Regions from separate parts of the Homo sapiens genome. Here all the other regions are linked to region 1. Evidence: fine-mapped expression QTL. A gene starts in region 1. Each other region holds a variant in brackets. All regions are shown on one strand. Distances are between the middles of the regions.

Region 1 (5,150 bases):
TCACACCAAAATTCTCCTCTACTTTCTCACCTCCCATCCTTTCATTTTTCCCCCTAAATTTTTAAACTTCAGAAGTGCACAATACACATGTAACAAACCCACACATGTACCTCCAAATCTAAAATAATTTAAAAAAACAAAAAGGAAACTCTAAATTTTTTGAGTGCAGTGATACATTCTTGCTGTGCCAAATCCAGTAACACAGAAGCATGCAAAGAAAAAGGCAGCACCACCCCCCTCCAACACACACACACACACACACACACGCACACACGCACATATGCACGCACACACACGCACACGCACACACGCACACGCACACACTCCAGCCTGGGCGACAAGAGCAAGACTCCATCTCAATAAATAAATAAAGAAAATAGTAATTGAATATTTTCCTTCAGGAAACAGCACCCTGCAGGGAGGGGAAGTCTTATGACCCTCAAAGTTTGAGAGCCTCTCTTAACTTCCCAATGGCCTCTGTCTGCTGAACCAAGAAGCCTGCAAAACAAATACGTAAGAACTGGATACCATTTCAGTCACACATGCTTGCTGACAGTCACTGATATGGTAATGCCTCCTGTACACATAGCTGACTCTGAAGACTGCTAAGAGGGTTTGGGTCTCTGCTGTACAGGACCTTGGCAGCCTGCAAGGAGATGACTCACATGGAAGTCCCCACACAAGTGCACCCAGTGTGAACTTTGGAAGCATCGGCCCATGCTCAGGCCCACAGGTAAGATGGCCAGGAGCCCCTAACCTTGAGGAAACTTGAACCACAGAGCTGCTGGCGAAGGGGGTGGGTGAAGGTCTCATGTAGCCTGTGTGATTCAGGCAGAAGTGAGAAGGACGGGTGGGAACCCACCAAGTGGACGACAAGCTGAAGGGCTCCCAGGGAGCAGACACTTCAAGGGCCCCAAAAGGCCAGGAGAAAGAAAAAAAAAAGCCGGGTATGGTGGCTCATCCCTGTAATCCAGCACTTTTGGGAGGTTGAGGCAGATGAATTGCTTGAGCCCAGAAGTTTGAGACCAGCCTGGGCCTGGGCAATGTGGCGAAACCCTGTCTCTACAAAATATACAAAAATTAGCCGGGTGTGGTGGTGCAAGCCTGTAGTCCCAGCTATTCAGGAGGCTGAGGTGGGAGGATCACATGAGCCCAGGAGGTGGAGGCTGCAGTGAGCTGTGATCGTACCACTGCACTCCGGCCTGGGGAACAGAGTGAGGCCCTGTCTCAAAAGGCCAGGAGTGGAAGACAGGCCCTAGCCAGGAGGTTTCGCGTGGCTGGCAGGGGCCTTATGAGAAGGCTGTTGCTGGGAGGGGCCTGCTGCAGATGGCTGCGGCAGACCACGGAGCTTAGCCTTCAGGATTTAGATCTGGGGATGACAGGCTCCTGTGTGCTTGTTGCGGAGCCGGGAGCACAGGCACCAGAATGATCCCAGGGCTCAGCTCCAAGGCTCCGCTGGGCCTGTGGTGGGGCAGTGAACGTGGACAAGACCTGGGCTTCAGAGGAACTTGATGACCAGGAGCCGTGGTTACCGCCTGTGCCCTGGCCTTCCTGCTCTTCAAAGGGTGTGTTCTGAGCTGAGGCGAGACCCACACGAAATCCGAGCGGGCTCCGGAGTCACCAGACACCTAGGGAAGTATGGAAGGCCCGGAAGGACACACACAGCCGGGTGAGCCCCGCAGGGAGCTGTGCAGTCTCAGGTCGTCCAGTCCTGGGGCTGCAGGCCAGTTCTCCAAGCAGGTGGTCCTGGAGGCAAGCTGGTTTTGAAAGTAGGTTCTGAAAATAGGTCAGTCCAGGAAACAAGCTCTGGAAGTAAAGAGATTCGGAAAGCAGGTTCGTTCTGGAAACAAGTTCTACAAACAGGTAGTTCTGAAAGCACGTGGGTTCCAGAGGCAGGTGCTAGAAGGATGTGGGTTCTGTACGGAGGTTCTGGAGGGAGGCGGGTTCTGGACGGAGGTTCTGGAAGGAGGCGGGTTCTGGAGGCCGGTTTTGGAAGCAGGACGACACCGACAGAGGCGCCTCGGACTGGGGCCAGGCCTGGAGCCTCCGCTCCGCGGGCAGAGAGAAGAAAGCAGGCATTGTCGGAGGACTCACACAAGCACTTGTCCCTAACAAAACCGTTTTTAAAAACCCCATTGTGAACATTTTTGGAACAAGCCTCTTAGAGGGTCCCGTTGCCGGGGTGACAGGACGAAACGGCGCGAGCGGGCAGACTCCTGGAGTCCCCGCAAAGGGAGCCGAGGAGCTAGGCGCGCCGAGTCCAGGTCCGCCCTGACTCTCAGCTTGGGACGTTCCGTATAGTTTTTTTCTCCGTTTCCCGAACTTCTCCCGCACGCTCAGCGGCCGCCGCGGCGCATGCGCAGTACAACCTGCCAGCCAGCCGCGGGCGTTCCGGCCGCGGTTGCCAGGGGTTACCGTCCCGCGGGCGGGCGGAGCTGGCCGTCCAGAGCCCGCCTTCCTGGAACTCTGGTTGGCTGATATAGCTGTCCGTCGAAGCGGCATTGCCGCCTATTGGGCAATGGCCAGCTTCGCACGCCAGACCCGTGCCCCGCCCAGCCGCGCCGCGGGCCGCCCCCACTCAGGAGGGACAGTCGGGGACCGGCGCGGGCACTCAGGAGCCCGCGGCCCAGGTGGTGCGGGCGGCCCTAGCCCGGCTGCGGAGCGCTGCGCGAGCGGCGGGCTGGCTGACCCCGAGGGACCCCCAGCGCAGCGGGTGCGGCGATGATCCTGGAGGAGAGGCCGGACGGCGCGGGCGCCGGCGAGGAGAGCCCGCGGCTGCAGGTGCGCAGAACTGGCGCGGCGGCGGGAGGAGGGGCCCGGAATCCCGGCCTTTTCCTGCCCCCCCTCGAGGCGCGTTCCGGGCGCCCCCCTCCTACGTCTCATTCGGCCCGGACGCAGGCAGGGAAACTGAGGCCAGAGCCTGCGTCCCTCCTCCTCTGAGCTCGGTGGAGGTGCTTCCAGGCCACTCATGTGAGCCGGGAAATGCGGACAGCCAAAGTCTGGATCATCCTCACCGCTGAAGCGGGTTGGGGGGACGCCCTCCTCGTGTCCCCCTTCTGGGCGGATGTGGGGCTGGGCTCTGTGAGCGCCCTCCCCACACCCGCCATCGTGTTCCTTTCCGGCACCTGTACAGCCTCCTTCCCTAGTTCGGTCCTCCCTCTGCATCCGCTCAGGAACTGCATGCCCATTGGGTGCACTGGTAGCAGCGGGCAGCGAAGCCTCCTGGGTATGGGAAACCGAGAGAGGTCTTCCCGGCTGGCCTCTTCTCACTTCCCAAACCTCCTTCCCTTCTGAAGTCCCTAACCCGGGGTGCTGACTGGGCAAGTGGGAGGGGTGGGCAGGGCTGTGGAGACCTGCTGAGTCTGTGCCTGGGAAGGAGGGGACGTCTGTGGGCCTTGCTCTGCAGCCCAGAGCCTGCTTGTTCCCTGCGGACCAGCTCGAGGCTGCCCCAGTCCTCCTGCCAGGCCCTGGGCGCCCACGCCCGCCACGGGCTTTCAGCCGCGGGCTGCTCCTGCTCCTCGCCCCGGGTGAGCCTTTGATAGCGCGCGGCCCTCCTCCCCTCTGGGACGTCAGACTGTGTTGTCCCTGGGCTGGTTCTACTCGGCTTTGGTGTTTGGGGTTAGGTCTCCTAGAGGAGGAGGCGGTGCTATCAGCCAGGGTTTGGCTTCAGGTCACTGGGCTGGTGATGCTGACCGTAGCCCTCAAGGACGCCCTTCTTGCCCACCCCGAGGCGTGCCAGAGGCTGCAGCACCTCCTGGGCACTGGAGGGAAAGAGGCAGCCTGTGCCTGCCCCCTATGAACTTGCTCTGTCAGGGCGGCCATGCCTGCAGGTGGCCTGGGACGGCACATGTTGTTTTGGGTGGAATGTTTGGGAGGCTGTACAAACAAGATGTCCCAGAGGGCTCCGGAGGTGACGCTTTTCAGGCTGGGGGCTGTGCCTGGGCTCCCTGTCCTGGCCCTCCCTGGGCTGCCACCTTGGAAAGTTGGGGAGAAGCTGTTTCCAGGCTGCCGTGTCTCTCACAGCGTCCAGAAATGACCCCACAGTCAGGGTACTGGGGAGGGGCCCGTGGGAGGTGGCAGTGGGGCGGAGGCAGGCCCTGTGTCACACGCGCACCACTCAGGCTGTCCTGCCATCTGGAAAGTCTTCCCCGATGCCTGCTGCCGGGCTAGAGTGAGGCCTGTTCCACCCCCATCAGGCTGGCCCCCAAACTGGCCCTAAAGCTCAGAGTTCAGTGGGTCAGGGGTCGGTCGTTCATCCACTTAGAGGCCACACCTGGGCCTGAGGCCCTGTGGACAGGTCTGGGTGACTTGTATTTGCCCCAGGCGTGATGAGAGCAGGCTTCCAGCAAGCGCTTACCTGGTGCCAGGGCCAGTGCTACAGCTGGAGTCCTGCCATTGGTGCCTCCCAAGCCCTGGGCCTCAGCCCGTCTGATGAACAGGGTGAGTAAGTGGCCAAGGCTGCCAAGCTGGGAAGGGGAGAAGCCTGGCACGGCCCAGGGTGGCCAACCCAGCTGCCGTCCCTCCCGCAGGGGCTGCAGGGGCTCCCGGGGGAGGACCACAAGGAATACAGCCTGGCTGTATGCAGAAGGTTCTGTGGTTTCCTGGGGAGGCCAGTGGGAGAAGGGGGAGCAGGCTGCAGAGGGAGAGCGTTGGAGCAGCAGGTGGGCAGGGTGGCTGTGCCCCCCTCACCTGGTCTCCAGCATGCCGAGTGGGTCAGCCTGAGGTTCCCCAGCCTGGCTGGACAGGAGCACCCTCTGGGTGCTGGTTACAGGTTCCCAGGCCCCTGCCCAGGTAGATTGGGCTCCAGGAAGAGGGGTGCTCAGGAAGCACCAGTGCCTGGGTACCCCAGGGAGCATCAGAGAGAGTGGGAGTCCCTGCCGTGAGTGGCCAGTCTATGATTCCTCTGGCGTGCGTGCTGCTTATAGCCCTGTGTCCCAGGAGACACCTGTGCAGCAATGCCCTTTGAATTCTGTTCCCTCATCAGTGGGGGGCAGAGATGGTGGGTCAGGTGGGTGCTGGGCTTCCACCCTCCTGGGGCTTCCAGTTCTTGCATTCAGGTGAGACTTCAGTGGGGGCAGAGGAGAGGGGTACCTGAGATGGGTGGCTGTCAGCATACAGGGTGCCCAGGGCCAGGGCTCTGAAGGGAAAAA
Region 2 (5,150 bases), 37 kb before region 1:
TCATTGCTTTAAACTACGCTTTCGTGCGTACTATGCCAAGAGCAAGAAGCTAGGCCTTCTTCTGTAAGTTCAGAAGCATGTTCTGCATGACACACGACAATCAACCTGCGTGGAGGTGGCGACCACAGTGATCTGGGAGCGGGTCGTGAGAAAGCTGCAGAAGATTTCAGGCGCTACTGCTTTCTCCTCCTTTACCACTTAACGTTGCTACTACATTTATATTACATGAAAATGGAACATGTACAATTTTAAAACACACCAATTTCCACAAAATTTCACAAGTAAAATAAAAGTTAAGGCTTCAAAGCAGAAAACTGAATAACTAGGTGTACCCTTTTACAACTCTGCGGCCTCTGTCCCACCATTCCCTGCATTTTATTCTAAGATCAGTGTGGTTTAGAGATGGGGGGTGAGCTGGGAGCAGGCGAGCAGAGTGAGAGGCTCGTGGTGGGAACGAGGGTGTTCACCAGGAATTCTTTCAACTGCACGTCTGAAAAGCTTTCATAAGAAAATTTTAGAGAAATAAATGCATAATCATTTGGTAAGAAGGAGGAAGGCATTTCTGATAAACAGCAGCAATCCTTCCCCAAACTAGCTTCTCAGGACAGAGGACGAGAGGCCCAGAGACCAGCAGCACAGGCCCGAGGGGCTCAGCTCCCACTGCCCCTCTGTGGAGGCTCGGCCCCACTGGGCCCCACGCGACACCACCACTCCCCGGACTGTCCACCATGGCCCTGCATAAGCAGTCCTCGCCTGCCATGTCCCTCCTGGCCAGGGAGGTCCTGCAGGGCTGCTGTGGGGCAGGCGAGGCAGCCGCTACACCAGGCCAGGGGCACAGCGCGAGACGCTCAGTAAGGTCCCATGGCCTCCCGTGGGCAGCCCCCACAGACACAGCTAGAACCTCTGTCCCTGTGGAAGCTCCAGTACCGCTTTGGAGAAACAGGCTTTGAACAAAACATTGCATCAAAGGAGCTCAGCAAACTCAGGTGTGCATGTGACTCGGCAGGGGGCCCACGGGAGGGCTGGTGGGAGGGGCACAGCATGGCGTGGGGGCCTGCCCTGGGGGAGAAGAGGTTTGCTTTTCTTAGAAGGATGCCTTCTAGCAGAGATGAAGAAAATAGGCTGAAGCAGCTAAAATCAGCAGCACAAGAGCCAAGCCAAAGCTCCTGGGCCCTGGGGTAGAGAGGAGGGCTCAAGGGCAGGAGGGGTGTGTGGGCCCTGCTGCCCCAGAGCCCCCGGGTCCTGCCTCTGAGGGTGGCTCAGCGCTCATGTCAACCACGGGCTCCGCTTCTTGCTGAGAATCACAAGCTGGGGTCAAGTGACCGTTCTGTGATCCATGTGTGTACACGCAGTGTACGTACTGTGTATACTCAGAACACACAGGGAACACAGTGGTGCGGGGGGAGGGAGGGGGGGTCCGCTTTGCCCAGAGGGTCCTGGACACAACAGGCACAGCCAGTGCAGGCTCAGCAGGAAAGGCAGGGACGGGAGCCCCCGAACTGCCACCCTCTGAGCATGGGTCAGTTGGTCAGCAGCCCCCACGCATCACCTGCAAGAAGAGGGCACAGAGCGCTCATAGCCAGAAGCCTGCAGGGGGGCTGAGGGAGCGAGCCAGATGCCCACTGGGAGCCCACGCCCAGGGAACCAAGCGCAGGCTGGGGAGGAGCCGCTCCCTGCATCCTTACCTTCATAGAAGAAACGCACTCCGTCGGGAAGGGGCTCGTATGGGGGTGCGAAGTACGGGCCCTTGTGCTCCAGCTGTCTCCACTTCACCCCGTCTTCGTGCTTCTCCTTCTCCCACCTAAAGACGGAGACAGGACGTGTCACTCTCCTGGGCCAGGCCCTGCATGAGCCTCTTCCCCGCTCCCACAGTGGCTCCTCCCTGTGGCTCCTAGCAGGTGAGCAGTGTGGCCTCCACCTCACG[G/A]GGGAGGAAAACAAGGCCTGCAGAGGGAGGCAACCCTACCTGACCTCAGACCCCATGCCCGTGTACCCGCCCATGCCCCCCACCTGCAGAGGCCCGTGTGCTGCTGAGTCACGGATCCCACCAAGCCCAGCTAAGCGGGAAAGGGCAAGCCCAGCTAAGTGGGAAAGGCAACGTGCCTCTCCCAGGCTCTAGGGCCTCTCCCCAGATGGGTCCCTTCAGAGCCGGTCTAGAATCTTCGGGAACCTCTCCATGGGACCATTTCATTTGCTAAATAAAGGACCTGGCTGCTTATGAGAGAGCCCTGCCTCCGAGGAGCTGGGTGGAAGGGGGTCCAGCAGTGCAGCCAGTGGAGAGGCACCACAGCAGGGCGCAGGACCGCCGCCCACAGAGGATCGGGCAGGGTGGAAGGGTGGAAGAGGCAGGGCGGGGTGGAGGAGGCGGGGCAGGGAGGGGAGGCCCTGAAGCCAGAAGCCTCAGGGGTTTTCAGGGAAGGGCTCCTTTTGTAAGGCACTAACACAGTGAGGCTCCACAGGGCTCCCTGCCAAGGTCCCCCTCCCCAGGGCGCCCCCTTCTGGCAAGCCCAGCTCTGGAGATTGGGGGGGTGTTGGAGGGGGTGGGGGGACACAGCCAGCGTGGCGGCTACAGCCCATCCTAACTCTCCAGGCCAGTCATCATCTATCCATTGAGGCAAGCCCAAGCCTGCCCTGAACCAGCACTGCGCTGGGTCCTGCGGATGCAGATCACCAAAACCCATACGAAGGGCTCAACTGAACCTAGATTCTGAGATGGGCCTGGGAGAAGAGGAGCGAGATGGGGCGTGGCTGGCAGGCAGTGGGCAGGCTCGGTCAGCAGGGCTGCGGGAAGAGCAAGTCCAGCACCCAGGATGGCCAGTGCAAAGGCCTCAGTGGGAGAGGCTTTGGCGAGAGGGTGGGAGCACCATCAGGATGGGGGAGAGTGAGATGGGCACACCTTCTGAGCCTCCCCCAGACGCACAAGGACAGAAGGTTCCAGATCACACCCCCACCTGCCAGAGCCAGGAGACCTGCACGTGACCCCAGCCAGGTAGTGCTGTTGGGGGCCTGGTGGGCCTGGTCGGCTGGGATGAGTGTCCTCAGAGCAACAGGAAGTCTCTGAAGGGTCTGAGAGGGGAAAGCATGTGCAACAGACATTTCTGAAAGGGCCTTTCTGGCTGTTTCTGCAGAGGAGGGAATGGGCAAGGTTAGAAGACGTAGAGACGGAGCTGATAAAGTAGGGAGAAGTTAACGGGCTCAAGAACCTTCCAGGGTGGAGCCGGGCGTGGTGGCTCACGCCTGTGATCCCAGCACTTTGGGAGGCTGAGGCAGGCTCAGGAGCTCAAGGCCAGCCTGGCCAACATGGCGAAAGTACAAAAAAACTAGCTGGCAGATGCTGCAGGCAGCTGGAGTCTGGAGGGAGACTCGGGGAGAGGGGGGTTCTGCTGACTCTGCAGAGCTTTTCCACGTCAGGTGAGACCAGCCTCACCTTTCTTACAGGTTTTAGGAGTTCAAGAGAGCCCACCAGCCCTGATACAGCATGTCTAGGGTGGGGCTGGTAGGAGGCTGCACCACTAAGTGCCCTGAAGGATGCAAACCTAGACAACGCCTTCTTAGAGAATAAGGGAAGATGGATCATGTCGGGTGTGAGAAAATGGGAAACCACGTGTATCTCGGAACTAACTGATAGGAGCCAGGCGCGGTGACTCACGCCTGTAATACCAGCACTTTGGGAGGCCGAGGCGGGCGGATCACTTGAGGCCAGGAGTTCGAGACCCGCCTGGCCAACATGGCAAAACCCCCGTCTCTACTAAAAATACAAAAATTAGCTAGGCGTGGTGGCGGGTGCCTGTAATCCCAGCTACTCAAGGAGGCTGAAGCAGGAGAATCACTTGAACCCAGGAGGCAGAGGTTGCAGTGAGTTGAAATTGCACCACTGCACTCCAGCCTGGGTGACAGGGCAAGATTTTGTCTCAAATAATAATAATAAAAATAAAAATAAAGAACTGACAGTGACCCTGACTGCCAAGTCCTTCACAAAGCCTCTAGGGTAGTCACATCACCAGTCTCATTTCACAGATGAAGACACTGAGGTGAAACAACCTGCCGGCCAGCGGCCAGGCAGGGCTGCACCACTGGGTGTGCGCTCAAGCCCAACTGAGGGCTGCACATTGTAGTGACATTCTTTCACCCCTGCAGAGACCAGGGCACCAAGCACCACCATCAGACACAAGCTGGCTTTCAAAGCCAGAGACCTTGCTCCAAACCCACCTGTCCACCTGGGCGACTGCAGCTCAGCAGCACTTTTTGGAAAGCACCTACCTGCCTGTGCACCCTCGGAGAGATGTGCCTCAATGCAGGGCCCACAGCCAGCCCCAGCTCCAAGCGCAGGCCAGAACTCCCTCCTCCCAAGACACCCTGCCCCATCTGGGGCTCTCTTTGGGTCCCAAGCTCCTGCAGGCAGACAGGACATTTCTGCAGCATGGCCTTAGGCAGCTGTGCAGGCCCTCAGCTGTGAATGGGTATGCTGATAGCGCACCACCAGGTCACAGAGACATGCCACGCTGGAAGCACTAAGTGAATGATGATAAACCGCGAGACCTGGCGGGAACTCCTGCAGGATCTCCCACGCACCAGTGAGGCTGTCAACTCTCCAGCTCTTCGGAAACTCCAGCATTTCATGCGCAGAGACCCATCCCCATGCGGCTACCCCAGGCCCAGTATGCGCCGGCAGGGCTTCTCACATGTCCTCCAGGAAAGCGCCTGGGACCACCAACGGCCACCAGGGCCACTGGATCCATGCGGCTTGTGCCTGGTGATGTAGATATGACAGTGAGCGCCCGCCGCCATGCAGAATCGGTCCTGGAGACAACCCGGGAACCGACTCCAGGAAAGAGCGGGTCTCAGAAGACCATGCACAGCAACATAAGCTTTTTATAAAGTACCTAACCAAACCCTACAGTGTTGAGGCCCAGGCACAGCTACACAAATGATGAAACCACAAGCGGAAAAAAAGAGGGGAGATTTCCCCAAATAGGGTTGGTGGGGTGGTGCCTGGGGAAGCAAGGGCGACGTCATGGGGGGGCCTGTACACCCCGGGCAGGAGGCGGGCCGGTCACACCGCGGCACGCATGCTCTCCTGGCCCGACTTTTGGGAAAACCGGAAGCAGGGCAAGGCCGTCCCACGAGGCCTGCCACTCCCCTTTCTGGACCTA
Region 3 (5,150 bases), 27 kb before region 1:
TAATATGCTAATGCGATGGTATGCATCGTTCTTCTCAAAGCAGGCGTGCGTATCACACCCCCAGCACGTCTCCACTGGGAGAGCTGCGCAGCTCGTGGCTGCGTACAGGACACAGCAGGGGTGACGGCTACAACTGCAGTGTGGCCCACTTGTGGCCATGTGACCTTGGCCCGGTTACTTAACCTTTTTGTACCTCAGTTTCCTCATCTGAAAAATGGACATAGCAGTACCTACTTCATAGAGGACTGACCAAAAGCAATGCCAGACACACAGCAAACACTCACTTACTGCTGGCTGCTCCCAGTACCCTACAACCCACAGCTCAAAGCTGCCGATGCAAGAGGGCACTCTGGGGGGCACCCAGGCTCCCTGGCAACCTACAGTGGGCAGGCAAAGGCCAGCACTGTAGCATTCCCACATTCCCAGCACTGGTCTACACAGCACTCCCCGCCTCCCCCACCAGGGACAGGGAGGGGAAGTGGGCCTGTGCTGGTCTAAACTGCATTCCCCTGCTCCCAGCGCTGATCTACACAGCATTCCACCCCTGCCAGCACTGGTCTACACAGCATTCCCCCCGTCCCAGCACTGGTCTACACAGCATTCCCCCACTCCCAGCACTGGTCTACACAGCATTCCCCCCGTCCCAGCACTGGTCTACACAGCATTACCCCACTCCCAGCACTGGTCTACACAGCATTCCCCCGTCCCAGCACTGGTCTACACAGCATTCCCCCACTCCCAGCACTGGTCTACACAGCATTCCCCCGTCCCAGCACTGGTCTACACAGCATTCCCCCGTCCCAGCACTGGTCTACACAGCATTCCCCCACTCCCAGCACTGGTCTACACAGCATTCCCCCACTCCCAGCACTGGTCTACACAGCATTCCCCCACTCCCAGCACTGGTCTACACAGCATTCCCCCACTCCCAGCACTGGTCTACACAGCATTCCCCCCCTCCCAGCACTGGTCTACACAGCATTCCCACACTCCCAGCACTGGTCTACACAGCATTCCCCCCTCCCAGCACCGGTCTGCACAGCATTCCCCCCCTCCCAGCACTGGTCTACACAGCATTCCCACCACCCCGTCAGGACATGGAGGGAGAGAAGGGGTGGGGTAGGGTACACACCATTTCCACCTGCTGCCTTCGGCCTTCTCCCACCCTTTCTGGCTCTCCTCCTGTGGCTTAGCTGCCTCCTGGCCATCTTTCTTCTCTCCCTCTGGACACCCCAGCATCAACTGGCTCCCCCTCCTTCCACTTCTCTCTGCTTCTGGCTGGCTTCCGGCTGCCCTGAGCTTTCTCTTCTTGGGGCTTCTTCACCAGGCCCCCCACCTCCCAGTCACCCTTTGCCCCAGGGCAATGGCGAGGCCACGCCGCTGGCTGTGGTGCCCCGTCCAGCTCACTCCCACACTGCACTTCTCTGTCTTCCTCCAGGTCCTGAGCTTTTCATTTCTTTGGTTTTCGAGTCCCCTCTTCCCCAGCTTTGTCTGTCTCCCTCTTCTTTTCTTTTCTGGAAACCAAGGCCTCCTGTCCCACTTTTGTGCCACTACCTAATTTGTCACTTTCTTCTTTCTTGGTTTTTCCCACCCACACTTCTTTTACATCCTCGTCCTCGTTCTGTGCTTGTCTCCTGGCCCGTAACTCTCCTTTCTGCTCAGTGTGGCCCTGGCTCGTCCTCCGTGCTGGGGTGGGCACCATGCCCTCACTGTGCACCTGCTCCTGGCCACGCTTCGCACCTCTTCTGTGGGAACTGCTCTGTCTATCCCACTGCCCAGAGCGCGCTCCTCCCCAGCTCCCACGGCGGCCCCTGCACTCTTCCGCTCCCCACAGCTGAGGGTCTCAGGCTTGCCCCTAGCGTCCCCGCCACCCTCTTCTCGTGCTGCCGCCCCAGTGCATCTCCCCACACGTTTGTCCTGAAGCCCTTTCTCCCCTTTCTCTTCGGATATTCTTTTTTTTTTCTCAGTTTGTGCCTCTCTTCCACACAGCCCTTGCCCCGGCCAGTGTCTGTGAGCTCACAGTCCAGGTCCTCTTCCAGAGCCCCCTTCCGGCTGGGCACCGCCTGCAGGGCCATGCCCTTCTATCTCTTCTCTTGGGTGTCAGGACCCCGGGCACATCCACCAAGGGCCATCTTCATCTTGTCTGCAGGAACCTCCGTGTGGCCTTGGGACCTTGCCCAGAACAGAGAGCACACACCATGAGAGGGGCCACAGGGCCACAAACATACCCACCCGGAGACCCCAGAGGAGGAGGGAAGGTTCACCTTCCCCACCCCAGCAATGGCTGCCCTCCATGGGCCTAACAGATGCTTTTAACTCAGCTTTGGAAAATGGCCTCTTGATCTCAGCCCTTGTGGCCTCTGTCAGGAGCAGAAACCAAGGGCAATGAACAAAGGAGCCAGGGGTCAGCTTGGGGCTGCTCCCAACTCCGGAGCAGGTGCAGGCCGCAACAGGCCATACTGCCAGCGTCCACCCTGACCCAGACACAAAACACCAGAAAGGGAAGGTCACAGAGCACTATCCCGACACCACTGCCCCA[T/C]CTAGTGCTTCCTTCTTCCTTCTTCTTCCTCTTCTTCCTCCTCCTCCTCCTTCCTCTTTCTCCTCCCCCTTCTTCTTCTTCTTATTAGCGACAGAGTCTCACTCTGTTATTATTATTATTATTGAGACAGAGTCTCGCTCTGTTATTATTATTATTAGAGACAGAGTCTCGCTGTTATTATTATTATTAGAGACAGAGTCTCGCTCTGTTATTATATTAGAGACAGAGTCTCGCTGTTATTATTATTATTAGAGACAGAGTCTCGCTCTGTTATTATTATTATTAGAGTCTCGCTCTGTTATTATTATTAGAGACACAGTCTCGCTCTGTTATTATTATTATTATTAGAGACAGAGTCTCGCTCTGTTATTATTAGAGACAGTCTCGCTGTTATTATTATTATTAGAGACAGAGTCTCGCTCTATTATTATTATTATTAGAGACAGAGTCTCGCTCTGTTATTATTATTATTAGAGACAGAGTCTCGCTGTTATTATTATTATTATTAGAGACAGAGTCTCGCTGTTATTATTATTATTAGAGACAGAGTCTCGCTCTGTTATTATTATTAGAGACAGAGCCTCGCTGTTATTATTATTATTATTAGAGACAGAGTCTCGCTCTGTTATTATTATTATTATTAGAGACAGAGTCTCGCTCTGTTATTATTATTATTATTAGAGACAGAGTCTCGCTGTTATTATTATTATTATTAGAGACAGAGTCTCGCTCTGTTATTATTATTATTATTAGAGACAGAGTCTCGCTCTGTTATTATTATTATTAGAGACAGAGTCTCGCTGTTATTATTATTATTATTAGAGACAGTCTCGCTCTATTATTATTATTATTATTAGAGACAGTCTCGCTCTATTATTATTATTATTATTAGAGACAGAGTCTCGCTGTTATTATTATTATTAGAGACAGAGTCTCGCTCTGTTATTATTATTAGAGACAGAGTCTTGCTCTATTATTATTATTATTATTATTATTAGAGACAGAGTCTCGCTCTGTCACCCAGGCTGGAGTGCAGTGGCGTGATCTCGGCTCACTGCAACCTCTGCCTCCCGGGTTCAAGCGATTCTCCTGCCTCAGCCTCCCGACCACCACACCCGGCTAATTTTGTATTTTTAGTAGAGAGGGGGTTTCATCATGTTGGACAGGCTGGTCTCAAATTCCTGACCTCAGGTGACCCACCCACCTCCGCCTCCCAAAGTGCTAGGATTATAGGCATGAGCCACCACGCCTGGCCTGCTAACTTATTTCACCATAAAATCTTAGAAGAAAATCAGACACTAAGTTCATTTGTGTTGTCATATCTGCAAGAATAAGCATTCATCAGGCATGAGTGCCTGGGAAGTTGCTTATCAGAATCATGTTCACACATTCATTTCCTATTTAAGATGCCGACTTGGCCTTTTTTCTTGGGTGGCTTTTCATGGTGATTAGTCTTCACTGGCGTGGTGATCTGTGCAAATCTAGAATTCAAATGTATACATAAACATGCAGCTCTGCGGCTCATTTAGGGTTGCCATTCTAACAACAGAGAGTCAGAACAACCTCATGGAAGCCTCCCAAGCTCTTCATGACCCTTTTCTCATTTTTCAAAAGTACACCTGGCAAAGCTGCTGGTGACCCACGTGCTGGGCATCAAGGAACCTCTGACTCTGAGCACAGCACCAGCTGGCGGTGGGAAGTCCCGCCCGAGGCCAGAAGCTGCGAACACATCTCAGGCCCCTCCCGGCCTCGGGAAGAGTGGGCAGGCAGTAAAAGGCAGCTCCCAGGTCCCCTCTGGGACCATCTCTGTCCCCACCAACACCACAGCAGTTCAGAGATCATCAATTTGGAAAAACAGTCTTTCCAAAGTAACTTTTGAAGAAGAAGTGTGAGAAAATATATTCAGAAACAAAACCCACATTGAACAGAGAGAGGAACAGACACTTCGCTTAAGTGGGAATGGCACGGGGCCCACCTCGGGCTGCACGCTGGGTCAGAGGCGCCATCCCTGGGAACCCCGAGGAGGTTATGGGGGCACCAGGCACCCCGGTCTGAACGCTCCCACTCATCGGCTGACTGGCCACCCTCACCCACACCTCACACTATGGCTGCTCTCACTCCACCATCTGACCATCACAACACACGCCCACATCCATGCAGACTGGAGACACAGTGAAACACGCGTCTTGCAAGGAAAAACCTGTGAGATTTCTGAAAATCATGTTAGAGCCCTACTGAGGCAGAGGCCTGGGCCAGCCGAGAAAGGTGAGAGGAGGCCCTGTTGTAACACAGCTGGAAAGCAGGATTCATAGATGGATTTCATGTGGAATCTAGGCCCTCAAGGATGGGGCCCTCAAAGATGACACCAAGGTCTGTGCTTGAGAAGACAGAAGGAGCCGCTTCACCGAAACGAGAGGACTAGGGAGGGAAGGGCAGCAGACACCCACGGTCCTCTCAGGATGTGCTGACTGCAGAGGCCTAGAGTCCCACAGGGAAGCCGTGGGAGGCCCCCTCTGCCCCAGCCCAGCTCAGCCCTCCTGCTTGAGGAAGAAGGAGTGGCGGGACACCAGAGGGACAGGCTAGGAAGCACTCAGTAGCAGTGGCAGGAGCT
Region 4 (5,108 bases), 140 kb before region 1:
ACCCTAGGGACGCTTTCCTGAGACCACTGAGGTCTGCAGAAGCTAATGGTCACCGGGATGGGTCAGCTCTGCAGGAAGCAGGGCGAGGCCACCGCTCCTGCACCCAGGTCCCTGACAGGAGATGCCCGTATTGGGACCTTTCCAGAGGAGAGAGGCGTCCCCAGCTCCTGTCATGGAAGCAGGTCATGCACCTTCAGGCTGGCCTCAGACCAGGGCACAGCCAAGGCTTCCTGCCCTCTAGGGTCTGCAGGTGGGAGGGGAAGGGGGTTCAGCTAGTTCCATGCTGGATACCGCGGGGTGCAGGGGCTTCCAGACATCAGGAGGTGGGAGCGCTGCCTGACACTCAGGCTTCCAGCAGCAGAGACCTCACGGGGGTGAGCCCTTTCACTGCCGCTTTGGTGGTGCAGGAAGCCTGGACCCAGCTCCCGGCTGGGGCATCCCATGAACAAGAGGAGGGTAGGAACCCAGCAGAGGACAACCTCCTCGACATAAAAACTTCTCCACAAAAGACCCAGGGAAGAGGAAGGAAAGACAAACTACAGACTGGGAGAAAATGTTTGCAAACTGCATAGCGGACAATGGACTGGAATCTACGATCTATTCACAACGTATCTCAAAATTCAACAGCACAAAAACAACCCACTTACAACATGGACAAACGACGTAAAGAGCTATTTCCCTGACGAGGACACGCAGAAGGCAAACGTGCACAGGAACAGATGTTCGACACCACGCACCCTCAGCGTTCCGACACTAGAACCACGGTGAGGCTGCAGCGATGGCTCACTCATGTCATCCCAGGACTTTGGGAGGCCGAGGGGGGTGTATCACTTGAGCCCCAAAGTTCAAGATCAGACTGGGCAACATAGCAAACCCTGTTTCTAAACAAACAAAAAATTCACGGTGAGATCTCATTATACACCTATCAGAACGGCTAAATAAAAAATAAACTGTTGCTGGATGCGGTGGCTCAAGCCTGTAATACCAGCACTTTGGGAGGCCAAAGCAGGAGGATCACTTGAGGTCAGGAGTTTGAGACCAGTCTGGCCAACATGGTGAAACCCTGTCTCTACTAAAAATATAAAAATCAGCCAGGTGTGGTTGTGCGCTCCTGTAATCCCAGCTACTCAGAAAGCTAAGGCAGAAGAATTGCTTGAACCCAGAAGGTGGATTATGCAGTGAGCCGAGATCACACCATTGCACTCCAGCCTGAGTGACAGAGAGACGCTCCATCTGAAAAAATAAAAATAAATCAAATAAATAAATAAATAAACCATGACCACCCCACATGTTGATGGGGAGGCAGAGAAGCTGGGTCACCTACCTGCTGCTGCTGGGAGTGGACGATGGAGCAGCCGCTCTGGAAGACAGCTTGGCTGTTTCTTATCAAACTAGACACGCAACTCCCACGACCCCCTGATGCGCCCCAGAGAAATGAAAGTCATGTTCATACAAAAACCTGCTCATGAGTGTTCACAGCAGCTTTACTTGTTTTAGGCAAAACCTGGGAAGCAGCCCAGATGTCCTTCAATGGCAAAGGGTTCAGCTGGTTCCATGGGCACCAGGGGAGACAGCCCAGCCACAGGAAGGCGGTGCCGCTGAATGGCATAGCCGCCAGGGGGAACTACAGAGACTCTCCGGAGTGAAAGTGGCCTCTCAACAGGCGGCCTCCAGGACAACTTCCTCTGCACAGCTCCCTGCAGCCACAATTCTGGAAATGGAGAGAACCAATGAGTGGCCACAGGGGCTCCCAGATGCCCCTCCCCACAGCGGAGGGTGTAATATTGCACCAAGTTATGCAAAATGATAGCCTTGGGTTGGGCACGGTAGCGCACGCCTGTAATCCCAGCACTTTGGGAGGCCAAGGCCAGTGGATCACCTGAGGTCAGGAGTTCAAGACCAGCCTGGCCAATGTAGTGAAACCCTATCTCTACTAAAAATACAAAAAAAAAAAAAAAATTAGCCAGGCGTGGTGGCAGGCACCTGTAATCCCAGCTACTTGGGAGGCTGAGGCAGGAGAATAGCTTGAACCCAGGAGGCAAAGGCTGCAGTTAGCTGAGATCATGCCACTGCACTCCAGCCTAGGCAACAGAGTGAGACTCCATCTCAAAAAAAAAAAAAAAAGAAAGAAAGAAAAGGTTACCCTTGGAAGAAACCGAGCGAAGCATATAATGAATGTCTCTCTGTTATTTCTTACAACCATATGTGAATCGACAATGACCTCATTACAATTTTTAATTGAAAACTAAAGGCGGCTGGGCATGGTGGCTCATGCCTGTAATCCCAGCACTTTGGGAGGCCAAGACGGGCAGATCACGAGGTCAGGAGATCGAGACCATCCTGGCTAACACGCTGAAACCCCGTCTAGACTAAAAATACAAAAAAATTAGCCGGGCATGGTGGCAGGCTCCTGTAGTCCCAGCTACTTGGGAGGCTGAGGCAGGAGAATGGAATGAACCTGGGAGGCGGAGCTTGCAGTGAGCCGAGATCGCGCCACTGCACTCCAGCCTGGGTGACAGAGCGAGACTCCATCTCAAAAAACATAAAATAAAATAAAATATTTTTAAAAAACTAAAGGCAGACTATTTTTAATAAAAGCAGGTGTCCGAAGCGTCAGGGAGCCCCGCTGGAGGGAGAGCCTGTGGGCGTCCTGGGGAGAATTGGGTGCCAGGTGCTCACCGGACCCCTGGAGCCCAGTGCGGGGAAGCTGTGGCAGGGAGCATGGAAGGCTCTGCGCAGATCAGCCCTCCCTGGGCACTGAAGATCT[T/C]CCCTGGAGGGAGGGCCTGTCATGGAGTGGGAACATGCTGGGGGGCGCACAGGCCCCAGCCCTTCTGCCCCCTAGAGAGGGAGGCCCTTGGCCAGGCACGGTGGCTCACGACTGTTATCTCAGCACTTTGGAAGGCCAAGGTGGACAGATCACCTGAGGTCAGGAGATCAAGACCAGCCTGGCCAACATGGTGAAACCCGGTCTCTACTAAAAATACACAAATTAGCCAGGCGTGGTGGTGGGCACCTGTAATCCCAGCTACTTGGGAGGCTGAGGCAGGAGAATCACTTGAACCAAGAAGTGGACGTTGCAGTGAGCCAAGATCACGCCACTGCACTCCAGCCTGGGTGACAGAGGGAGACCCTGTCTCAAAAAAAAACAGAGAGAGAAGGAGGCCCTTGCTCACATGTCAGGATTGAGGCCCAGGAGACCCAGGGGTGGGCAGAATGTGAGGGACTGAGAGCTCAAGGCTGAGTCGGCTTGGAAGAAAAGTCAAGGTGATTGAGCTCCGTGTGAACAAAGCTGGTTGTGTGCTGTTTTGCTATTGTTGTTGTTTTGTTTTTTTTCTTTTTCTTTTTTTTTTTTTTTTCCAGAGACAGGGACTCACCTTCCCACCCAGGTGGGAGTGCAGTGGCGTGATCTCGGCTGACTGCCGCCTCGACCTCTCAGGCTCAAGCCATCCTCCCACCTCAGCCTCCCAAGTAGCCGGGACCACAGGCACGCACAACCACACCCAGCTAATTTTTTGGTGTTTTTTGTAGAGACAGTCTCGCTGTGTTGCCCAGAATGGTCTCACACTCCTGAGTGCAAGTGATCCTCCCGCCTTGGCCTCCTAAAGTGCTGGCATCACAGGCATGAGCCACAGTGCCCAGCCATGTTGTCGTAGTTTGGGTTTGGTTTGGTTTTATTGTGTGTTTTGGCACAGCCCTTGCTCAAACCCTGCAGAAAACAGAAGATAGGTATGTACTGACTGGTTTCAACTAGTGTGGGAAAACCTGGGTACCCTCCCCTCTGTTTCCCTGAAGGCGCCCAGGCCACCAGCTTCATGAGCACCCAGCGGATAGGGTGTGCCTGGTACCACCACAGGAAGGCCAGCTCTGGACACAGGGAGGACGCACGAAAGGCCGAGACAGTGCCCAGCCAGTGCGGATCCTGTACGCCGGCTGCTGGGTTCTCCTCCCTGTGGCCATCCACCTTCATGCTCTGCCCTCACACCCTGGGGCCATGAGGCCAGACAGACTGGGCTTCGATCTGCCATGTTCCTGGCATGCACTTTAGGTGGGCGCGCTGCTCCAGTTCTCCCTCTGTGCCATGACAGCAGCTACAACTGAGGGCCCTGGGTGCACATGAGTGTGCAGTGAAGGTCAGGCATCCGTGAGGTCCACCGTCACACACTCCCAAGGGACCCCCAGCCAGCGCTGCACAACCACCAGGGCCACAGCAGCTCTGTCTTAACCATGTGCTGAGTTGTCTCGTAAATCAGTCCCAAAGCCACACACAAACCCTAGTATCACACAGACCTCCCTCAGGTGCTGGGGGCCCTGGTCCAGTCACCCCCTGCCTATTGACCACACTCCTCCACAGTGATGCACCCCAGTGCTGAGACCTCTGGCGGACTCATATAACCCTCCCCCCAGCACTGTGGTTCGGGTCTATCTCTTCCTGGGCCCAGGTCTCTTCTACCCAGGATCCCGTCTCTCCCGGACTGTGATGTGGGCGGCCTCGGCACTATGAGGCCAGGTGTCTGCCTTCCCTACAGACACTGGACTCTCGTATCTTCCCCGCTGGCTCCCTGGACCCAGGGCAGTGCAGCTTGGTTGGCTCAAGATCACAGCTCACCCCCGCTGAGGATTCCAAGGAGCATAATAGCTATGACAAAAATAATCTTAGAACAGACCTCTTCACATCCCTGAGAGGAGATGACTGTGACCTTCATCACTCCCATCTTACAGATGAGGAAACTGAGGCACAGGAAGGCTAAGTGCCTTGCCCAGGACCAGACAGCAATTCTGAGGCAGTTCTGGGATCTAAGCACAGGTGGCCTGGCTCCTGGGTCCACACACTCAACCCTACCCACAGCCCCCTCAACATGGTGGGGCCATCTGTGCTTCATCATGCACAGTGGCCTTCCAACCTCTGCCAGCTGCACAGAACAGGTGTGGACAAGGCCTTGGCCATGCACCATACTCAGGATGGTCTCTGCCTTGGAGAATCATGAGGCAGCACTGGTCTCCAGGGCCAGGTGGGCTGATGTCCAATGCTGGCTCAACAGCTTACTTGTTGTGCAAATCAGCCTGGTCCCCTGCCCTCTCTGAGCCGTGGTTCTTCATCTGTAAAATGA

Evidence for each region. PIP is the estimated chance that this variant, and not a neighbour inherited with it, causes the effect.
Region 2: its variant is fine-mapped to the expression of RHPN1 in whole blood (GTEx, PIP above 0.99).
Region 3: its variant is fine-mapped to the expression of RHPN1 in whole blood (TOPMed, PIP above 0.99).
Region 4: its variant is fine-mapped to the expression of RHPN1 in whole blood (TOPMed, PIP above 0.99).

Annotation. Positions count from the first base shown.
Region 1 is chr8:143,366,267-143,371,416 of GRCh38, forward strand. RHPN1 (rhophilin Rho GTPase binding protein 1) reads left to right here and starts at 2,610. Exons shown (of 15, transcript NM_052924.3): 1 at 2,610-2,781. The coding sequence starts at 2,722. RHPN1-AS1 (RHPN1 antisense RNA 1) reads right to left here and starts at 2,369. Exons shown (of 1, transcript NR_026785.1): 1 at 357-2,369. RefSeq lists enhancers at 1,568-2,123, 2,864-3,771, 3,772-4,678 and silencers at 2,287-2,356, 2,367-2,826, 3,027-3,076.
Region 2 is chr8:143,329,539-143,334,688 of GRCh38, forward strand. It overlaps TOP1MT (DNA topoisomerase I mitochondrial), which reads right to left. Exons shown (of 14, transcript NM_052963.3): 2 at 1,686-1,801. Among named protein-coding and RNA genes, the nearest start is that of TOP1MT, 2.8 kb to the right of the region's middle. RefSeq lists enhancers at 2,357-2,890, 4,566-5,150, 4,790-4,839 and a silencer at 5,040-5,150. The variant G/A (reference allele first, on the strand shown) is at 1,925.
Region 3 is chr8:143,339,267-143,344,416 of GRCh38, forward strand. It overlaps a transcript of TOP1MT not described here. Among named protein-coding and RNA genes, the nearest start is that of TOP1MT, 7.0 kb to the left of the region's middle. RefSeq lists an enhancer at 1-608. The variant T/C (reference allele first, on the strand shown) is at 2,540.
Region 4 is chr8:143,230,046-143,235,153 of GRCh38, forward strand. No RefSeq gene overlaps it. Among named protein-coding and RNA genes, the nearest start is that of ZFP41, 14 kb to the right of the region's middle. The variant T/C (reference allele first, on the strand shown) is at 2,768.